Linked DNA regions of Homo sapiens: region 1 is linked to region 2. Evidence: fine-mapped expression QTL. A gene starts in region 2. The other region holds a variant in brackets. All regions are shown on one strand. Distances are between the middles of the regions.

Region 1 (2,919 bases), 69 kb before region 2:
TTTAAAAATTTACAATGGTTAATTTTTCTCCCCTCTTGGGTATAGTAAATCAATATTCAGATTTTATTTCAACTATTAGACATAGTCATAAATATATCATCTAGCTGTTGTGAACCTGACAGTCAAGTCAGTCAGTAGTATATTATCCTACAAACATAAATGGATCCAAATCGTTTTGGTATTTATAGCCATGATGATTTAAGTAGTCAAAACGCAAAACTTGTGGTTGCCCCCCAAATCACCCAAAAGCATATTATACAGTGTCAGAAACTGTTTGCATCAGTTTTAGAAGCTCATCTGTGTAGTTCAGGTATCTGAAACTAAAAAAGGGGGGATTCTTTCATATTTTGATAAAAATGTAGTCAAATATTTCATAACATTAATATTTATTGCTTTATATGAATACTGTATTGAAAGCCCAAGCATTCAGTTTACACACAGAAATTATACAATTATATACCGCTTCACAAAGGCAGTGAACACATTACATTCTACAAAATCTACTTTACAGAAATTTAAAAACTTTAAATATCAAAAGGTACAGCTGAAGAAACAGGTATAAATTTGGCAGCCAGTAATTTTGACAGGGAAGTTACAGCTTGCATGACTTTAAATATGTAAATTTGAAAATACTGAATTTCGAGTAATCATTGTGCTTTGTGTTGATCTGAAAAATATAACACTGGCTGTCGAAGAAGCATGTTCAAAAATATTTAATTCACTTCAAAATGTCATACAAATTATGGTGGTTTCTATGCACCCCTAAAGCTTCAGTCATTTAGCTCAGGTACATACTAAAGTAATATATTAATTCTTCCAGTACAGTGGTGTTTCATACCATTGACATTTGCATACCCTAGAATAATTTAGAAAGACATGTGTAATATTCACAATGTTCAGAAAAGCAAGCAAAAGGTCAAGGAACCTACTTGGTTCTTCTGAGATGGTCTCATATCAGCTTCATAAACATTCATTCTACAAAATAGTAAGCTAACATTTGAACACAATTTCCAAGATAAAGCATATTTTCTCATAAATAATGAAGTCTTTTTCTCAGGCACCTCAGAAGTATACAAAAGAATTTGAGTTTGAACAGATCTCTTGGAATGTGTTTAACCTGGTATTTCAACAGACTTAAGATTTCCAGGGTTTCACAAGGGCCAGATTTTATTTCAATTACTCAGAAGAGAAAGAAAATGTCTTCTGAAAGAGGTGAACTCAATCATTACCAATAGAAAAAGTATCCACTGTATTCATCTCTTATAGAAACAGAAAAATATAACATTTCCCCCCTTAGAATTATATATATATATATATATATATGTATGTATATATGACTTAAAGTTCCATTGTACGTAGCCAAACAATAAAATCTGGAAACCAGCATGAAACCCTATAATTCACATGTTAAAATGTTGAAACTATGACCAAAATATGAAAACTGCTAGAGCTATCAGAAAGAGACAAGACAAAAAGCTTCTTGCATATGTATAAACTAAATGTGATAATCTCAAAAAACTTTTCAAAATTGTAATTACTTTCCAGTTTAAAAACTTCAATCCTAAATTAAAAAAAAAAAAAAA[T/AT]CTATACACAAACCACTGATTTGCCCAGACCAAAAAAAGAAAGAAAGAAAAGTCAGCGGTAAGGTAAGCAGGACCCAGAGGAGCTGATATTCACAGTTCTTACATGTACAACTCTTTCAGGAATTATCCATAAAGTACTTTATTTTACAACCTGCTTCTCTTGTAAAACTAAAGGTCCATTTTATTACACAAAAGTTTTATACAGTGTTAAAACCAGAACTGTATGTAAAATACTGCATCTAAATGTTTCTAAATAGTTAGTCTTGTTCCATTGGTTCATCGGTGACTTCTGTGGCTTCGTCATCATTTTCCATGGATGATTCTGAAAGAATCTCTCCAGTTTTACTGGAATTGGATCCTACTAATTCTTCTGTTTCACGGCAGTCAGAAGAACTACTACTTACAGGGCCTTCGTTTTCACTACCTTCAGAATGTAGCAAATCTTTCTCAGCTTGAGACACATCAGATTCCTCCATTTGATTATTTTCCTCAGAAGTCTCTTCATTCACAGTTAAGGCATCATCAGATTCTTTTTCTTGATTTTTTCTTTCTGGGATCATTTCTCTTGATGTCATAAAAGACTCTAAAAATAAGCAAATGTTGTTGTAGTTAAATTGTATTTTCAAAATACCTCCACAGTTAAGTTTCATGAATTCTGATATTCTATAGTTCAAATCACATCCCCTGAAATTCAGCAGCAACTACATACAGGTGGGAGAAAAGCCCAACATCAGCATTATAAGGAGTTCCATTACGTAAAATTCTTTCACGAAAAAAATGAAGTACAAGAATTTGAGGATCTCCTTACTCCACCCTTTTACAGATGGTCTCTAAATACCTTCTTCTTCCTCTTCATCCTCTTCTTCATCCTCTTCTGTACAGTGCTGCCGGGTACAACGGCTATCTTTGTCTTTATCCTGAGATGAAGATGATGCTTCTGTTTCTCCTACCATAACTGAAGAAATTTCGCTGGAAGTCGTTTGACTGGCTGTTTCTCTGACTTCACCTTCTTTGTCAAACCTGAGTCTTTTTACCTCATGCCCCTCAGCTTCCACAGCATCTTCATCTGGATGTTTATTTTTCAAAGGGCTCACTGAGGAAACTTCTGATTCAGAGGTCGAAGAGTCACTGTAAATGTTTTTTTAAAGTGTCATTAATAAGATTATTTTCCCCATCTTCTACATCCCCATTTTTAAGGTTAAATAATGTTTTAAATTGTATTTCAGTGTCAAAGTTAAATTATAACACCTGAACAAAGAAAAACACAAGAGAATAATTTCAAGGTAAACTAAACTGTTTGATGAATAATTCCCAGTAGGACTCAGAAAAGCTATAT
Region 2 (2,919 bases):
TATGCAAATATGACCAAAAAAAGGCTGGACACACGACAATATGAGAAAATACCACCAAGACTCTGAAACAGAATCAAAGCCACAAAATTCTAGGAATAAGCCTATTTGTTATGGCCAAAAAGGGTCATAATGGAATAGGCATTCTTCCTTTCTCTGGCTCGTTAAGACTAATACATTCTCTAAGCGTGCCAAAGCCTAGCTATAAAGAAAATTTTAACATACACAGGTTTTTAAAATCCGTTACAGACCATGTATAAAGTAAGTAAGCGTATACGTTCTTTAAATGTAAATATATAAATTATTTAAATGACCAGGACTTCTACAATTTAGAATGAATTATTTAATTATCCCAAAATATACTTTTTTCCCTTTCCTGAGCAATTCTTAATAATGCACTGGTCTATAACGACAAATGCATGTTTTCAACTCACATTGTTTCTCCAGTCTTGGCTACATGACAAAGAAACTGATCCAGGACAGGACAAACTTCCTTTTTCCCCCTCTTCTCAAAATCTAGATGAAGGAAGAAAAAAAAACGTTATCAGTTTTCTCAAAAGCGCTCTAAAAACAAACTTTCCTCCTAGTCCTTTACCTTATTAAAAATCAATTAAATACAAAATTAAAAAAATAAGGCCTCTCAACCAAATTACCACCTCAATCCTCCAAGTTCTACTTCCAACATGTCACCCTCTTTACAGATAACAAGAATCCTCCTAAAGGGGGCACTCAACTTCACAAACCATTTTTAACGCAGTGCTTCTCGAAGTGTGGTCCGGGGGAACACCAGCATTATATTAAGCTGGGAATCCAGTGAAAATAAAAATCCCCAGGCCCCGACTCCCACCAATTGTTCATCTAAGTCCATAAATCTGCCTTTCTAAGAAGCACCAACTACCCCAAGTTGCCGTCCCCAAATGATTCTGAATGTCAAAGAATAATTCTCAAAACGCTGAAATCTCTCTACTCGAAGTTTGTAAGCCACTGTTCTCAAGCCTGTTGCGTGGAAGGCGTGCAATCAAGAACAGTGAAGGCAACCACCTCGAAATTAGGGCGCGGAAAGATGACTTCAAAAGCCCTGAAAAAGGCATACTGAGACAACTTAAAAGTTGCGATGCTACCCCCTACCCCCGCCCCCACCAACCGTTTACTTTTTCTCCCACCCCAACGCCTAGCGTACGGGTAGCCTGGTGGAGAAAAGAGGATATCTGGGAGGGAGGGGTCTGCGGGTCCGCCACTCGTCCCCTGAACGGGTGGGAGAAAGACTGGGGCCCCCGCAAGAGTTTCCCCGGCTCCCCTCCCCCAGCCCAGACGCCGGCGGCCGACACAAAGCCAGAGCGGGGCGGGAGAGAGCTGCCCACAGGGCTCCCCGCCCCTGGGGAGGTGGAGGGGGATGGGAGCCCGGGAAGCACTCTCCCCACGCCGCGCCCGGCCCCGGTCCTCGGAACCATCCGCCCTGAAAGGAGAGAAGAGCGAGCCGGAGAAGGTGAGGGGGAATGGAGAGGGGGCAGCTACCCCCACCTTTCAGCGCCTCCTGGAGCCTCTCGACGTCCATGGCTTCCCGGAGTCCCTCACAGCCTCCGCCTCCCTCCGCGGGTCTCTTGGGGACCGGAACGCCTCCCCCCACCCCCCCGACGCCCTCCCCCTCCCTCGCACACACTCCGGCACGCAGGCGACCGGGGGGGGGAAACGAAGGGAGCCGGGGGAAGCGTGCGAGAGAGCAAGACCGACAGAGCGAGCACCTCCCCAAGCCGCTACCACCAACCCTCCAACATGGCGCCCGGTACGTCACCGCGCGCACGCTCCCTGCCGCCGTCCTCGCTCCCGCCGCGCGCTCCGGCCCGGAACCCGAGAGCGCGTGCGCGGCCGAGGTGTGACGCTGGGGCCCAGTGGCGTCTGCGTCCCGGCGGCTTCCAGAGCCTCAGCCCCAGCCCCAGCCCCAGGCCCAGGCTCCGCGGAGCTGAAGACTGGACGGTCAGGCGAGAGGGTTGCAGGCGGACTCCTAGGCTTTGAATCCCTGCCATTTCCTCTCTGTGTGAACTTAAGCTACTTACTTCGCCTGTCTGAGCCTCATTTTCCCCATCTGTACAGTAAGGGCACTGGTACTGATGCCCTATGCAGTTGCTGTGAGAATTCAGTGTATACACTTCACGTTCAGAATGCGCCTAAAAAACGTAGAGCGAGGCCGGGCAGGGGGCTCAGGCCGGTGATCCCAACACTTTGGGAGGGAGGCCGAGGCGAGAGGATCGCTTGAGCCCAGGAGTTCGAGACCAGTCTGGGTAACAAAATGACCCCGCTCCCTCGCCCTTCTCTATATAAAAATAAATACAGGCCGGGCGCGGTGACTCAAGCCTGTAATCCCAGCACTTTGGGAGGCTGGGGCGGGCGGAGCACCTGAAGTCAGGAGTTGAAGACCAACCTGGCCAACATGGCGAAACCCCGTCTCTACTAAAAATACAAAATGTAGTCGGGCGTGGTCGCTCGTGCCTGTAATCCCAGTTACTCGGGAGGCTGAGGCACGAGAATCGCTTGAATCCAGGAGGCGGAGGTTGCAGTGAGCCGATATCGCGCCACTGCCTCCAGCCTAGGCGACAAAGCGAGACTGTTTCAAAAAAATAATAATAAAATTAACAATACATACATACACTAAGCATTGCTAATAATCCTAACAAGAATACCTCCCTGCTTAACCCAACGTTCGTTCGTCACTGGCCCACCTGTGGCAAGAAGTAATGTATACAGCAAAGTCATTAAGAGCTCAAGGTTTGGAATCAATATTCAAATCCCAACTCAACTACTTACTCCTTGTGTGGCCCTGAAGTAGTTACCTAAACTCAGGCAGCTTCAGGGTTCTTATTTATAAAATGAGGGTTGTAAAACGGCCACGAGGATTGAGTGAAATGGCAAATGTGAAACATTTGG

Direction of the effects. Alleles are on the strand shown, and positions count from the first base shown. SD is a standard deviation of normalised expression in the study named.
As copies of AT replace T in region 1, the expression in monocytes after LPS of the gene that starts at base 1,779 in region 2 goes down (moderate effect, 0.41 SD a copy in Quach 2016).

The links.
Region 1: its variant is fine-mapped to the expression of PPP4R2 in monocytes after LPS (Quach 2016, PIP 0.91).

What each region holds. Positions count from the first base shown.
Region 1 is chr3:73,064,644-73,067,562 of GRCh38, reverse strand. It overlaps PPP4R2 (protein phosphatase 4 regulatory subunit 2), which reads right to left. Exons shown (of 9, transcript NM_174907.4): 8 at 2,422-2,711; 9 at 1-2,166. The coding sequence ends at 1,841. Among named protein-coding and RNA genes, the nearest start is that of EBLN2, 4.4 kb to the right of the region's middle. The variant T/AT (reference allele first, on the strand shown) is at 1,584.
Region 2 is chr3:72,995,671-72,998,589 of GRCh38, reverse strand. It overlaps PPP4R2 (protein phosphatase 4 regulatory subunit 2), which reads right to left and starts at 1,779. Exons shown (of 9, transcript NM_174907.4): 1 at 1,519-1,779; 2 at 432-513. The coding sequence starts at 1,552. LOC124909395 (a long non-coding RNA gene) reads left to right here and starts at 1,399. Exons shown (of 2, transcript XR_007095961.1): 1 at 1,399-1,483. RefSeq lists enhancers at 795-844, 2,105-2,154 and a silencer at 1,295-1,924.